Linked DNA regions of Homo sapiens: region 2 is linked to region 1. A link means that fine-mapping ties the variant in region 1 to the expression of a gene that starts in the linked region. Tissue or cell type: atrial appendage. Region 1 holds a variant in brackets; the other region holds the start of a gene. All regions are shown on one strand. Distances are from middle to middle.

What was found. PIP is the estimated chance that this variant, and not a neighbour inherited with it, causes the effect.
Region 2: BAD starts here. The variant in region 1 is fine-mapped to the expression of BAD in atrial appendage (GTEx, PIP above 0.99).

What each region holds. Positions count from the first base shown.
Region 1 is chr11:64,408,397-64,416,396 of GRCh38, forward strand. LOC105369341 (a long non-coding RNA gene) reads right to left here. Exons shown (of 4, transcript XR_001748069.2): 3 at 3,764-3,819; 4 at 1,682-2,521. Among named protein-coding and RNA genes, the nearest start is that of LINC02723, 17 kb to the left of the region's middle. RefSeq lists enhancers at 7,300-7,800, 7,801-8,000. The variant G/A (reference allele first, on the strand shown) is at 4,237.
Region 2 is chr11:64,280,974-64,288,973 of GRCh38, forward strand. BAD (BCL2 associated agonist of cell death) reads right to left here and starts at 3,692. Exons shown (of 4, transcript NM_032989.3): 1 at 3,658-3,692; 2 at 3,209-3,403. The coding sequence starts at 3,395. GPR137 (G protein-coupled receptor 137) reads left to right here and starts at 4,875. Exons shown (of 7, transcript NM_001170880.2): 1 at 4,875-5,908; 2 at 5,992-6,041; 3 at 6,748-6,973; 4 at 7,092-7,241; 5 at 7,367-7,495; 6 at 7,630-7,748. The coding sequence starts at 5,552. RefSeq lists silencers at 3,572-3,861, 4,212-4,951.

The DNA.
Region 1 (8,000 bases):
ACCATGGCCTCCCAAAGTGTTGGGATTACAGGTGTGAGCCACCTCGCCTGGCCCCGATCTCTCCATATAAGGACACTCACCCCATCATGAGGGCTCTTCCAAGAGCTCCTAAAGGGCGTCTTGGTCATTGAATGAGAGTTACAGATAAAGATTCTTTGCTCGGCCAAACTTTAGTCAGGCTTCTGAATCTTCTGCTAGGCCCATCTGTGCACTTCCTTGTAAAATGCAGTTCTAGGCCAGGCGCGGTGGCTCACGCCTGTAATCCCAGCACTCTAAGAGGCTGAGGTGGGCGGATCACTTGAGGTCAGAAGTTCGAGACCAGCTTGCAACATGGTGAAACCCTGTCTCCACCAAAAAAATACAAAAGTTGGCTGGGCGTGGTGGTGCATGCCTGTAATCCCAGCTACTTGGGAGGCTGAGGCAGGAGAATCACTTGAACCCGGGAGATGGAGGTTGCAGTGAGCTGAGATCATGCCCCTGCACTTCAGCCTGGGCCACAGAGTGAGATTCCGTCTCAAAAAAAAAAAAAAAAAAATCCAGTTTTAGCGAAAGAACCCTGGCCTGTGTCAGCAAGAATCCTGTTAGGTCGGGTTAAGCAGAATCTCCCCTACCCCTTGGTAATTTTCCATCCACTGACCCCCACACTCCTTGGCCATAAATTCCTACTTGCCTGTGCTATATTCAGAGTGGAGCCTAATCTCTCTCCCCTACCGCAAGATCTTATTGTGGGGGTCCCTGTATCAATCTCCACGGTCCTGGATAAAGTTGGCTCGGCCATGCTTTACCAATGTCATGGAATAATTGTTTCTTTAACATTCACCAAGGCCTTCTTGGTCATTGCACCGACAGCTGGAGATCCGAGGTGTTGATCACTCAGCATCGCCTCCTCCACGGTCACCTGAGAACAGATTCCAGGACCCAGGGGAGGGTTGCGGCTAATGAGCAGAAGCTCGATGTCAGACTTCTGGATCATCGGACCCAGGGTCTCTGCCGGCCACTCTGAATTAAGCGCTCCTGTTCACAGGCAGATGGTGCAGACCGTGCCCCTGGGGCTCAGGCAGGTCCAGAGAGAGGAGAGAGCAGAGAGCAGGCCCCGGCCTTTTCTTGTAGTACTCTTGCCCCTCCGCCCCTCCGTCCCCCCGCCCCCACCACCTCCGGGTGCAGTCGGACTCCCGAGCTTCGCGCTTCGCATCGGATAAATCACTGCACCTCTTGGGAGCTCAGGGAATGAGGGCCTGCGCAGCCGGGCCAAGGGCACCAGGACTTTGTGAGTGGGGAAGGGAGTGGGAATCCTTTCAACTATGGCTGAGGCATTTGCGGGAAACAGTTCATTCCCCAATCCCCCTCGCTATCCCCCACAACTACTGAGCTTCCTCTCCCTCCTCCCGGCACCCCCTCTCCCCTCCCCGCCTCCTTCTCTCTCTGGTTCCTTTGCACACACCAGTCTTCTGCCTACAGGCCCTTCCTCTCCATCCTGGCCTACGAGACTCCTGCGCACCCCTCAAGAATCTGCTCTGTCCGGCTCCGGGAAGTCTTGCCACACTTTCCAGTGGCTTAGGGGGCCCCTCCCTGTTCATCCCCCTCCCGCCTGTTCTTCCCCCTCCCTCTTCTTCCCCCTCCCTCCTGTCTCTGGCTCATTTCATGTAGTTCCCATTTGATTTCTTCTTGCACACCCTTTTCAGTTTATGTTCTCTTGCTGTATTTTATGAATGCTCATTAAGCCACCTTAAATCCCATCTGGAATGACTTGGGAGGGGGCCAATGCTGCTGCCCTGTGACTCTTGAGAGTTTGATATAAGACGACCACAGCCGCCAGCTGCAGCCCACGTCCTGGGACTGGAAGATCTCATGATTAGCTCTCCTGGCTCTGCACCAGCTGCCTAAGAAACGTGAGCCTTCTCAAGCTGCCGCCATGAAATATCTGTCCATAAAGATGACTTTTATGGGGAGCCGTGCTGTGGTTCTGAAACGAGATTGACACCTTAGCTTGGTTCATGCATATAGCACTCCTGGGAATTATGTGGAAGAAAGGTCTGGCCATGGGGCCGGGGTCGGGGGAGGCAGGCGAGGTGGAGGTGCCCAGGGTGTGAAAACTGAGGAAGTGATGACTCTCAGGCTGTGCCAGAGCTGGGTGGACACTGCCTGGCCCCACGTGATGTCCCCCAGTGTGTCCCCTCCCTGCCTCCTGCTGTCTCATCCCAGATGAAGGCTCTCACTTCCACGCCAGGCTCTGCCTATCTCAGGATGAGACTGTCAACTCCGTCCACAGGAGATGCCACACGTGTTGTAAACAGATGTGACTGGCATAGAATATTCCCCAAGTCTGAGTTGTGTGGTTTTGAGTGACACATGTCCTGAATGGGACACTCCTATCCAATCCAGATCCTTCCATGCAGCCTCGCCTCCATGCCAGCAGATCTGCTGAGTTGTCTTTGCATTCTTGGTTTCCTATCTCCTGGATAGGATGGATGCCTGTCTGACACATGCATGTGTACACACACGCACACATGCACACCCACCTCTGCAAAGCAAATACAAATACATGGGCTTAGGTGAATTGGAATCCATTCATTTGTCAGATATTTCTTAGGCATGTTCTCTATGCTGGGCACTGTCCCACACAATGAGGACATAGCAAGGAACAAAAAAGGGAAAAGTCCCACCCTCATGGAGCTTATATTTTGGGGTAGGAGTCAGTCCATAGATACAAGCCTAAGGAATAAAATATGCCATATGCTAGGCAAGACTACATCAAGGAAGGGGTGGGAGTGTTGGGATGGAGCTGAAACTTCAGGAAGGACCAGCCAAGGAGGCCTAAAGGCATGAGGAAGTGAGCAGTAAGCCCACAGATGTCAGGACAGGAGATCCAACAAAGAGCTGGGGGTAGCAGGTATGTGGGGGCAGCAGGAGGCCAGTGGGTGGCCAGAGAGAGAGAGAGAACCCAGGATCACAGTGGGGACAAGGTGGGGGAACACAGTGGCCTGGTGGGTTGTAGGAAGGACTTTGGCTTTGACCACGATGCGATGCTGCTTGGGGAGGTTTAAAGCAGGGGCAGGGCGGGAGATGGGACCTGACTTTCGATTTAACAGGATCCCCCTGGCTGCCTCGAGGAACGCAGGCCTCTGAGGGTCGGAACTGGACTGGGAGGCTGGTCAGCAGGCTCCTGCTGTCCTCTGTTGGGAGGTGACAGTGGCTAAGACTGGCATGGAGGCAGCGAGGTGGTGGTAAGTGACAAATTGTGTGTGTGTGTGTGTGTGTGTCTTTTTTTTTTAATTTTTAAATTTTTATTTATTTATTTTTGAGACGGAGTCTTGCTCTGTCACCCAGGCTGGAGTGCAAGATCTCGGCTCACTGCAACCTTCGCCTCCCGAGTTCAAGCAGTTCTCTTGCCTCAGGCTCCCAAGTATCTGGGATTATAGGCGCTTGCCACCATGCTCTGCTAATTTTTGTATTTTTAGTAGAGACAGGGTTTCACCACCTTGGCCAGGCTGGTCTCCAACTCCTGACCTCAGGTGATCCGCCCGCCTCAGCCTCCTAAAATGTTGGGATTACAGGTGTGAGCCACCGCACCCAACCTAGATTCTGGGTATATTTGTATATATTTTGAGTGCAAAGCTGATGGGATTGACTGACAGGTGGGATGTATGGGAGTGGGAGAGAAGCCAAGGAAGAGCCAAGGCTGATTAGTTGGTTTATTTATTCGGGTAAAATTCACATAATGTTAATTTAACCATTTTAGAGTGTATTCAGAGGTATTTAGTACCTTCACAGTGTTGTTCCATCATCGCCTCTGTCTCATCCCCAAACATTTCCATCAGCCTGAAAGGAAAACTTTGTATGCATTAAACAGTCACTCCTTCTTCCCCCTCCCGGAGCCCCTGACAAGCATGAATCTGCTTTCTGTCTCTATGGATTTACCTATTCTGGTAAATCACTTAGCATAATGTCTTCAAATTTCAGCTATGTGGTAGCATGTGTCAATTTCCTTCCTTTTTAAGGCTGAATAATATTCCACTGTATGGCTAGACCACATTTGTTTAGTCATTCATCTATCCATGGAGATGGGTGTTGTTTCCATGTTTTAGCTACTGTGAATAGTGCTGCTGTGAACATTCATGTACAAGTTTCTCTTTGAACACCTGTTTTTTTCCCTTTTATTTACTTATTTATTTATTTTGAGACAGGGTCTCTTTCTGTTGCACAGGCTGGGGTGCAGTAGCATGATCTCAGCTCACT[G/A]CAGCCTCCACCTCCCGACCCAAGTGATTCTTTTTTTTTTTTTTTTTTGAGTTTCGCTCCTGTTGCCCAGGCTGGAGTGCAATGGCACGATCTTGGCTCATCACAACCTCCGCCTCCCAGGTTCAAGCGATTCTTCTGCTTCAGCCTCCCGAGTAGCTGGGATTACAGGCATGTGCCACCACTCCCGGCTAATTTTGTATTTTTAGTAGAGACGGGGGTTTCTCTAGGTTGGTCAGGCTGGTCTTGAACTCCTGACCTCAGGTGACCGGCCACTTCAGCCTCCCAAAGTGCTGGGATTACAGGCGTGAGCCATCGAGCCCAGCCCCCAGGTGATTCTTTTACCTCAGCCTCTTGAGAGCTGAAACCATGGACATGTGCCAACACACCTGGCTAGTTTTTTAATTTTTTGTACAGACAGAGTTTTGCCATGTTGCCCAGGCTGGTCTCGAACCCCTAGGCTCAAGTGATTGCCCTACCTCAGCCTCCCAAAGTGCTGGGGTTACAGGCTTGAGCCACTGTGCCTGGCCTGAACACCTGTTTTCAATTCTTTGGGGTATGTATACACAGGAGTAAAACTGTAGGATGGTATAGTAATTCCATGCTTAACTTTGCGAGGAACGGCCAAGCTGTTCTCCACAGCAGCAGTACCATTTGACATTCCCATCAGCAAGGTACAAGGGTTCCTCTTTTTCCATATCCCCGCCAACACTTGCTATTGTCTGTGTGTGTTTTTTTAAATTATAGCCATCCTGGAGGGTGGGCGGTGGTATCTCATTGCAGGTTAGATTTGCAGTCCCTAATGACTAATGATGGTGAGCATCTTTTCATGTGCTTCTTGGCCATTTGTGGAGCCAAGGGGCTTAACCTGAGCAACCAGAGGAAGGATGGAGCTGCAAAGAAGCAAGATGGGGAACGTGGAGGGAGAGGAGGTCGGTTTGACAGGCTGAGTTTGATGTCCCCAAATGGAGAGGTCCAACTGTTGGAGGCCTGTGAACCAGAGCGACTCCATGTTGAATAGGAGCTGTGTAAAATGAGGCTGAAACCTCCTGAGCTGCATTCCCAGACAGTTAAGGCACTCTAAGTCACAGGATGAGATAGGGGTCAGCACAAGATACAGGTCCTGAAGACCTTGCTGATAAAACAGGTTGCACTAAAGAAGCTGGCTAAAACCCACCAAAACCAAGATGACCACAACAGTGACCTCTGGTTGTCCTCACTGCTCCAATCCTATCAGCGCCACGACAGTTTACAGATGCCATGGCAATGTCAGGAAGTTACCCTATATGGTCTAAAAAGGGGAGGCATGAATAATCCATCCCTTGTTTAGTAGATCATCAAGAAATAACCATAAAAATAGGCAACCAGCAGCCCTTGGGGCTGCTCTGTCTATAGAGTAGCCATTATTTTATTCCACGACATTTTTTTTTTTTTTTGAGACGGAGTCTCGCTGTGTCGCCCAGGCTGGAGTGCAGTGGCGTGATCTTGGCTCACTGCAACATCCACCTCCCAGGTTTAAGTGATTCTCCTGCCTCAGCCCCCCAAGTAGCTGGGATTACAGGTGCCCGCCACCATACCTGGCTAATTTTTCTTTTTTTTCTTGTTTTTTTGAGACGGAGTCTCACTCTGTTGGCCAAGCTGGAGTGCAGTGGCGCGATCTCGGTTCATGGCAACTTCCACCTCCCAGGTTCAAGCGATTCTCCTGCCTCAGCGTCCCGAGTAGCTGGGACTACAGGTGCATGCCACCATGCCCAGCTAATTTTTTGTATTTTTAGTAGAAACGGATTTCAACATGTTGGCCAGGCTGGTTTCACACTCCTGACCTCAGGTGAACTGCCCGCCTCGGTCTCCCAAAGTGCTGGGATTACAGGCATGAGCCACTGCCCCCGACCTAATTTTTGTATTTTTAGTAGAGATGGGGTTTCACCATGTTGGCCAGGCTGGTCTCGAACCCCTGACCTCAGGTGATCCACCCACCTCGGCCTCCCAAAGTGCTGGGATTACAGGCGTGAACCACTGCGCCTGGCCAATTTTTTGTATTTTTAGTAGAGACGGGGTTTCACCATGTTGGCCAGGCTGGTCTTGAACTCCTGACGTCGTGATTCGCCTGCCTCGGCCTCCCAGAGTGCTGGGATGACAGGCGTGAGCCACCACGCCTGGCCTATTCCTCTACTTTCTTAATAAACTTGCTTTCACTTTACGGACTCACCCTGAATTCTTTCTTGCATGAGATCCAAGAACCCTCTCTTGGGGTTTGCATCAGGACCCCCTTCCTGTAACACAACTGTAGTTGGCTGTGACTCAGGGGGTTCGGGGGAGGCCTGGGCTAGAGGTATGAACTTGGATGTGATCCACGAGGTGCAAGCGTGAGTCGGGCACACCCACAGTACAGGCCGGCCCATGAGGAGGAAGATGGGGCAAGAGTGGGGAGAAGACCAGGTGCACGAGGCCCCTGGAGGCCCTGGAGGGAGTGTTTCAAAGAAGGGAGGGTGAGCACCTGGGTCCTATGCTCTGGTGATTGAGTACCACAGAGCTGACAGCTGACTTGGCAGAGCAAGGTGACCTTGACAAGGGCAGTTTGGGCTGCAAGCCTGCCTTGAGTGGGCTTTGCGAGAGGACAGGAAGTGTGTGAGTGGAAAGGGGAGAGACTGCTCTTCAGAGGCTTCGGGGCCTTTGCTGTCAAGGGAAGGAGGGAAATAAGATGGCATTTGAAAAAGGAGTGAGATGAAGAGAGTTTAAGATGTAAGCAGGGAGGACGCAGAGCTGACGGGATGCCTGACCGATGCCCTGGAGCCTGGGGGAGGGGCAGATGTGCTGTGGGGGTGGAGGAAGTTCTTAGCTTAAAAGGATGCACCAGCTCTGAGGGGAGTGGGGGAGGAAGATAGGGGTCTGAGGAGAGGGGAGGAGGTGGGAGGGGAGCGTGGGCCCAGGGGTGCAGCATGCTTGCCGGGAAGCGTTACAGTGGCCCATTTGAAGTTAGCTCAGGAATCGAGATGTTGAAAAGACAGCTGTGTCTTACGCACACATAATCTGCAGGGCACAGCTATGTAACCGTAAGGACAATTGTTTACATTTGTAAACGGAACCCTTTAACGCCGTGGAAAAGCCACTGTGCGCCTAATTCATTCTAGAAGGCCTGTGTGCTACATCTGCCTAACTCAGGGTTTCTAACCTGGGCTCCCCGAGGGCCTCAGGCATATTTTCAACACCTTCAATTCCCTTACAAGAATAGTTTTGGGAGTTTCATGTCACTGATAACTTAAATGCTTGATGCTGGTCCACCCGGATGACTACATATGAGTGCACATTGCCCCGTGGGTTCGTGATCACACGTGTCAGTGCACACTGCCATGTGGGTTGGTGGTCAGAGGTGTGAGTGCACACTGCCATGTGGGTTCATGGTCACAGTTGTGAGTGCACACTGCCATGTGGTTTCATGATCACAGGTGTGAGTGCACACTGCCATGTGGTTTCATGATCACAGGTGTGAGTGCACACTGCCATGTGGGTTTGTGGTCACACAGGTGTGAGTGCACACTGCCATGTGGGTTTGTGGTCACACAGGTGTGAGTGCACACTGCCATGAGGGTTCGTGGCCACAGGTGTGAGTGCACACTGCCATGTGGGTTTGTGGCCACAGGTGTGAGTGCACACTGCCATGTGGGTTCATGATCACAGGTGTGAGTGCACACTGCCATGTGGGTTCCTGGTCACACATGTGTGAGTGCACACTGCCACGTGGGTTCGTGGTCACAGGTGTTTGTGTT
Region 2 (8,000 bases), 130 kb before region 1:
AATTTTTTTTTTGAGACGGAATCTTGCTCTGTCACCCAGGCTGGAGTGCAGTGGTGCAATCTCTGCTCACTGCAAGCTCCGCCTCCCGGGCTCACGCCATTCTCCTGCCTCAGCCTCCAGAGTAGCTGGGACTACAGGCGCCCACCACCACGCCCAGAGAATTTTTTGTATTTTTAGTGGAGACGGGGTTCACCGTGTTAGCCAGAATGGTCTCTATCTCCTGACCTCATGATCTGCCCACCTCGAACTACCAAAGTGCTGGGATTATAGGCGTGAGCCACCGCGCCCAGCCTAATAGTTTTTTTAAAATTCCTTGGCATCATCCTGACTCCTCTCTTTCCCTCGCACCCCACATCCAGTCCATCAGCAGATCCTGCCAGTTCTGCTTTAAAAATAAATCCAGGGATCAGCTACTTCTCACCACCTCCCTGGTGACTCTCTGAATGTCTAAATCTGACCATGCTGCCTCTGCTCAAATCCTTTCCAGGTTTTTACTCAAAGGCAATGCCAGAGTCCTTAGAATGACCTTCAACTTTAGGTCTCCAAATACCCTTTCCTAAACCCCCTCCCCTAGGCCCACCCTAGCCAGGAGCAGGTGTTGCCCTCGAGGCCTTACCATCTGCCCTTCTCTCTGCCTGGAACTCTCTTCCCATCATCCCTGTGGCCTTGGCTCCAGTGGTGCTTCTCACCAAGGTGAGTGCTGACCACCTCTGCTACCATCACTCCCCCCGCCCCTGTGACTCCGGATTCTCTTAACTCTTTTTTTTGAGATGAGTCTCACTCTGTCGCCAGGCTGGAGTGCAGTGGCACGATCTTGGCTCACTGCAACCTCCGCCTCCCGGGTTCAAGCGATTCTCCTGCCTCAGCCTCCCGAGTAGCTGGGACTATAGGTGCGCGCCACCATGCCCAGCTAATTTTTGTATTTTTGGTAGAGATGGGGTTTCACCATGTTGGCCAGGATGGTCTCCATCTCTTCACCTTGTGATACGCCCACCTAGGCCTCCCAAAGTGTTGGAATTACAGGCGTGAGCCACCGCGCCCGGCCTCTCTTAACTCTTTTACATGCTGCCCCCATACAAATCTTCTCACGCATGATAGGATGCTTTTGTGCTTGTTTGCTCATGGCCCCACCAGCTCACTAGAAGGTAAGCTCCACAAGGGCAAGGATTCCTGACGCTTGGGTTCACCGAGGCCCCCTAGCAACTGGAACAGCCTGTGTCACACGGTGAGCACTCACTGTGTGGCGCGAGTGAATGCTGAGTGTGTGTGGGGGGCAGAGAGCAGGGGAAGTTTGTGAGCAGAAAAATGGCCAAGTGCAAGCTCAGGAAGTTAAAGAAAGCTGTGGAGGCTGAGCATGGTGGCTCACGCCAGTAATCTCAACAGTCTGGGAGGCCAAGGTGAGAGGATTGCTTGGGCCCAGGAATTCGAGACAAGACTGGGCAACAAAGCAAGACCCCACCTCTACAAAAAATAAAAAATGAGCTGGTGTGGTGGCATGCACCTGTGGTCCCAGCTGTTCTGGAGGCTGAGGCAGGAGGATCGTTTGAGCCCAGGAGTTTGAGGCCTGCCTGGGCAACAAAAGGAGACCCCGCCCCTGCCCTCATCTCATGAAAATGTGAAAAATGCTGGGCATGGTGGCTCACGCCTGTAATCCCAACACTGTTGGGAGGCTGAGGCGGGTGGATTACGAGGTCAGGAAATGGAGACCACCCTGGCTAACACGGTGAAACCCCATCTCTAATAAAAATACAAGAAATTAGCCCGGCATGGTGACACGCGCCTGTAGTCCCAGCTACTCTGGAGGCTGAGGCAGGAGAACTGCTTGAACCCAGGAGGCAGAGGTTGCAGTGAGCCGAGATTGCACCACTGCACCCCAGCCTGGGCAGCAGAGTGAGACTCCGTCTCAGGAAAAAAAAAAAAAAAAAAAGAAAAAGTAAAAAATAAATTAACTGGGTGTGGTCCACACACCTGTATTCCCAGTTACGTGGGAGGATCACTTAAGCCCAGAAGTTCCGGGCTGCAGTGAGCTGAGATCGCACCTCTGTACTCCCTCCTGGGTGATAGAGCGAGACCCTGTCTCAAAACAAAACAAAACAAACAGAAAAAAAGAAAGCAAGCTATGGGGTCCAATCTGAGAGAATCGAGTGTGGGTGTTTATCCGTAAGAGAGCGAGGGGAAAGAGGCCTCTTAAGCCTTCTTAATCCTGAAAATGGGGAGGAGGTCTTTTAAGCTGCAGTGCCAGAGTGACATGACCTAGTTTTCTATTTTTAGAGATGGGGTCTGGCTATGTTGCCCAGGCTGGTCTTGAATTCCTGGGCTCAAGCCAGCCTCCTGAGTTGCTGGGACTACAGACATGTGCCACCCCACCCAGCTTGACCTGGTTTTTGTGTTCAGAAGATATCTGTTGTTGTTCCAGGTGCCAAGGCCAGTGCTGGGCACAGGGGTGCTAGAGCCTACTGAGAAATGGACATAGAACCCCAGTGTCCATCCTTCCATCTTGGAGCCTGTGCTTCTCACCCCACACAGCCCTGCTGTCTGGGAGGACTGTCTGCCCCTTGAGGTCATCTGCCCCTGGCCACTGTGCCAGGACAGTCCTGCTGTGGGTACGAGCCACAGGGCAAGAAAGAACACATCTGGGAGCTGGAAGGCCTAATCCCAGGGAAAGCATGTAGCCTGGGGCAGGGCACCAAGGAGGCTTCCAGCCCCCACATTCTAAGGAAAGAAACACCAGGAAGGTGTGGCCTTAGGCAGGCCCCTTTTCCTTTTCGGATCACTGCCTGCCTGTCACTGATTTCTGTCCTAACCCCACACTAATAGCTGCTATATATATATATATGTATTTTAAGAGCTGGAGTCTCCCTAAGTCACTCAGGCTGGCCTTGAACTTCTGGGCTCAAGCGATCCTCCTGCCTTGGCCTCCCAAAGTGCTGAGATTACAGGTGTGAGCCACCACGCCCGGCAGCAACCATTTTTTAGCTTTAATGTGCACCAGCTCTGTAATCAAGTGCATCCTATATGTTCCTGCTAATTAACTCAACAGTCCTACAATGGTGGTTATTAATTGCTGTTTTACGAAAGAGGAAACTGGGGCTCTGAGAGTTTGGGGACCGACCCAAAGCATTCAGTGCCTGTGGATGCAACTGGGATGCAGGGAGCCAGTGGGCTGGGGGTGAGGTGTCCCGGCAGGTGGAGGTGGTGGGGTACTTACCTCCATGATGGCTGCTGCTGGTTGGCTGCTCCTGCTGGTGACTGGCGTCCCACAGGAGGCCTGGGGCCTGGCGATGATGCTTGCCGGAGCCTGAGGGCCCGTCCCCTGCGGGGCTGGGGCCCAGGCCCCTCTCTGCAGAGCTGGAGTCTTCCTGCTCACTCGGCTCAAACTCTGGGATCTGGAACATGCTCTGGGCTGTGAGGACAAGATGTTACGTAGTCAAGGCACAGCTGGGGCCAACGGTGGCCCTGGAAGGCAGAGGCAGGTACCCCTGGCTTCCTCTCCCACCGTAGCGCCCCCAGGCCCGCCAGGCCTCCTGGGCCCTCATCTGTCTGCCGGGTCTGGCCTGGCAGGGAGCTGAGGCTGTCGGCTCAGGACCTCAGTCTCCCCTCAGAACCCCGGTGGACCCAGGCCCCGCCCCGCCCGTGGTGACGGCGCACAGGTCTCACCCCAAGCCCGATCTCGAGGCCCCTGACCCGGGCCTGCCGCCTCCCTCCAGCACCCCGGGCTCCGGGCCCTAGTTGCTTGGGCAACGGGAACTGTCAGCGACCTGGCCCAATCACCTCTCGGAACGTCACTCGGGTAGGTCCAGAGGCGGGGTCAACCCGGCCCGGCCCCGCCCCCCCGCCGGATCCAAGGCTCCTCGTCCGCATCCTTTTTCCTCCCTCCTTCGGCCCCGGGGCTCACATCCTCGCTGCCTCACACCTTGGGCGTGTGTGGGAGCAGGAGAGGGATTCTCTGGGGTCCCCATTTGGAACCTGGAGACCCACTTCTGCCAACAAGTCCTTCAGCCCCTCTGGGCCTTAGTTTCCCCCCAGTGAAGTGGGGATAGTGACAGCTCCCCCGGGAGCCAGTGAAAACTTTGTGAAGGGAGTGATTACTGCGGGCGAAGGCGCTTGGCACAGCCACAACTGAAGCTCAGCCGTCGGATGTGATTATTGTTGCTATTGTTACCGCTCCGCCTGGACTGGGTGCCCGGTCGGAAAGTCCCGCTCCCCGCTCCTCCTCCCAGGCGCGGAAGCTTCGCGCCGCCCGCCTCGGGGGACACCTCCCGCGCCATCTCGGGGGCACTGGAGATAAGGAAAGGAACCTCCTCCCTGGCTGGGATGGCTGCCCGGGCGCGGGAGGAGGGCCGGGGACCCGGTGAGGGAGGACCGTAGGGCCCGTGGGGGCTTCACGCCTGGCAGGCGGCCGGCCAGGTGAGCAGGGCCGCGGGCGCGCCGGGGCGAGGGGCGGGCCCGCGCGGGGGATTCGGGGCTCCGCGGGTTCAGGCCCGGGGGCGGGGCCCGGGGGCCATCTTGGCTATGGGCGGAAGTTTTCTTCAGAGACCGAGGGACGGGAATCCGTTGCCGCCCCCGGCCGGGCGGCACGACCCCGATTTGGGTATAGGAGAGAGGAGCGTGGGAACTGGCGGACCCCCATACAAGTAAAGGCGGGCGGCACGGGGCACGGCCCACCCGGGGACCCCCTGGATGCGGCACGGCCCCCGCAACTCGGCCGCCCTCCTGCCGCCTCCCGTAACCCCGGGCGCCCGCCAGCGGCGCAGCTCGCGCCAATTCTCGTACGGTTTCACGCCGGGTGCGGCGCTGGACTGCGGAGCCAGCCGGGCCGCTGCGCAATTTGCGTAGCGAACGGCGCCCGCGCAGGCGCGGAGGGGGAGGGGGGCGGAGCAGCGGGAGCCGGGGAGCCGGAGCCCCGGGTCCCCACGACCTGAGCCGGCTCTCCCATCAGCGGCCTGAGGACCTGGCGTCCGCCTCCTCCCTCCCCTTGAGGCTGGAGCGTGGACGCGGTGGGGGAGGGTGGGGCGGGGGCAGCTTTCGAGAATTACGAGGACAGGAGGCAGAGGCCCTCCCCATCCGCATTATTGGAGGAGAGAGAGCCTCCCCCAGCTTGGGGAGGGGGAGAGCGGGGCATTGGGCGCCCCTCGCAGCGGCCGCTGCCCTGACCCGACGGGTATCAGCCGGCTCTCCCCCTCCACCCAGGACGACATGAACGACCGAGGCCAGGGAGTCCTCTCCTTGGGCCTCTGCATCCCCCCATCCTTGGCTCTGGGGTAGGCCCAGGGAGGAGACACCCCCAACCCCTATCCGGTCTGTCCTGGAGAAAAGAGACTGCCCTTCCATGCCCCTGAGTGAGGGGCCTGGGGCCCAGGCTGCCTGTGTTCCCCAAGGGCAAGGGTCTCTCTGTTGAGGAGGAGGGGCCTGTCAGCCACAACTTCTTTCCTCCTGAGCGCCCCATCTCCCTCTCTGCACCCTGCAATTCCCACCCCTCCGTATTTATTTCCCTGGTCCCGCCGACAGTCCCTCCTTGTCTGTCTCCGGGATTCAGGCCTCCCTCCCTGACATGGAGAGTAACCTGTCTGGCCTGGTGCCTGCTGCCGGGCTGGTGCCTGCGCTGCCACCTGCTGTGACCCTGGGGCTGACAGCTGCCTACACCACCCTGTATGCCCTGCTCTTCTTCTCCGTCTATGCCCAGCTCTGGCTGGTGCTTCTGTATGGGCACAAGCGTCTCAGCTATCAGACGGTGTTCCTGGCCCTCTGTCTGCTCTGGGCCGCCTTGCGTACCACCCTCTTCTCCTTCTACTTCCGAGATACTCCCCGCGCCAACCGCCTGGGGCCCTTGCCCTTCTGGCTTCTCTACTGCTGCCCCGTCTGCCTGCAGTTCTTCACCTTGACGCTTATGAACCTCTACTTTGCCCAGGTAACCAACTGTGGTCCCGGGTGGGGGGCGGGAGGTGGCAAGCCTCAAGGACCCACAGGAGTGAAGGGCATCTCTGCTCCTAGGTGGTGTTCAAGGCCAAGGTGAAGCGTCGGCCGGAGATGAGCCGAGGCTTGTAAGTACTCGGGACACTGGTGGGCTCAGCCTCCAGGTCAGGGGCAGGTGACAGTCCCATGTAGATCCCTTCCCACCTCTCAGGGCTGAGACAAAGGCAACCCAGGGAATGTCTGTGGAAGATCTTGGAAAAGTTAAAGCACCTGGCGCAGATGGCTCAGCAGAGGCCTTGCAGATCTGCAAGGCACAGGAATAGGAATGCTTGTGGTAGTGTGAGGGAGAGGGCCCCAGTGTCATCCACCATGGAGGGCGAGCTGGAGGCTCCAGCCCATGGAAGCACCAAAGCCATATGCACTCCTGGGTGACCTGGGGCCGCAATGCCCTCGTCATTTGTACAGTGTCTTACGGTTTATAAAGAGCTTTCCCAGCCATCTTTTATTTGTACAATTTCCCTGAGAGGCTACTATCCTCCCTTGAGAGATGAAGAAACTGAGGCCCAGCCAGGTAAGACAGCAGGATCAAGGTCGCAGAGCTGGGGCTCAGACAGAGACTTCTGACTCCAGTTGGTGCACCTTCCGAAGTACCATGGCTGTCAGTCACCTTCTGACCTTTTTGGGCCTCAGTTTCTCCATCTGTAAGAGTGGAGGAACAGGGCTCAGACTGGATGCCCTGAGTTTTGTCGACATTGGGGTTTCCTGCAGGAGGTGGGGCAGGTGGTGAGTGCTGAGGGCTGTTGAGGGCCCGCGCTGACTGTGCTGTGGCTGCAGGCTCGCTGTCCGAGGGGCCTTTGTGGGGGCCTCGCTGCTCTTTCTGCTGGTGAACGTGCTGTGTGCTGTGCTCTCCCATCGGCGCCGGGCACAGCCCTGGGCCCTGCTGCTTGTCCGCGTCCTGGTGAGCGACTCCCTGTTCGTCATCTGCGCGCTGTCTCTTGCTGCCTGCCTCTGCCTCGTCGCCAGGCGGGCGCCCTCCACTAGCATCTACCTGGAGGCCAAGGTAGGGCTGCAGCACTGATGCCCAGGTGTCTTTTGGGTCTCTCGGCAGCGGTTCTCAGGGTGTAGAGGAAGCTGGGAGCCTTCTCTCCCTGAGGGTCCTCTGTTGTTACCTGTGCCAGGGGACCAGTGTGTGCCAGGCGGCCGCGATGGGTGGCGCCATGGTCCTGCTCTATGCCAGCCGGGCCTGCTACAACCTGACAGCACTGGCCTTGGCCCCCCAGAGCCGGCTGGACACCTTCGATTACGACTGGTACAATGTGTCTGACCAGGTGGGCATACGCATGTCTGCCACCTCCTTAGTAGCCGTGGCACCTTGGCCCCAGCTGGCCTGGGCCCTGTCCCACTACCCCTTTGGCGTGACTGCAGACTGGCACCAGCCCCTGCCTTCCCACAGGCGGACCTGGTGAATGACCTGGGGAACAAAGGCTACCTGGTATTTGGCCTCATCCTCTTCGTGTGGGAGCTACTGCCCACCACCCTGCTGGTGGGCTTCTTCCGGGTGCACCGGCCCCCACAGGACCTGGTAAGGGTCTGCTCCCTCTTCTGTGGGGCCAGTGGAGGGGGCGGATGTTGCAAATCCTGGGTTGGAGTCTGGGGTTGGGCCTGGGAGGCCAGTGCAGGACAGGAGTAAGTATCGATGATGGCTTCCTCCCCCAGAGCACCAGCCACATCCTCAATGGGCAGGTCTTTGCCTCTCGGTCCTACTTCTTTGACCGGGCTGGGCACTGTGAAGATGAGGGCTGCTCCTGGGAGCACAGCCGGGGTGAGAGCACCAGGTAGGAGCCGTGGCACTGCCTCAGTACCCCTGCCCTACCCGCCCACCCCGCTGGCTCCATCAAGCTATGGGGGACCGAGATAGCCGGGTCTTGCCTTCCACCCCTGCCATGGCCTTTGCTTCCCCATCTGTACTAGGTGAGGTCCCCTGGGTTCCTATTGCTAAAGCCTCCACCTCTTGCCTAGAGATGTACTTTGTCCTGGGCCCCGAAGGTCTAGGTCACAGGGGTTCTGTTCTAAGCCTGTCTTCCTCC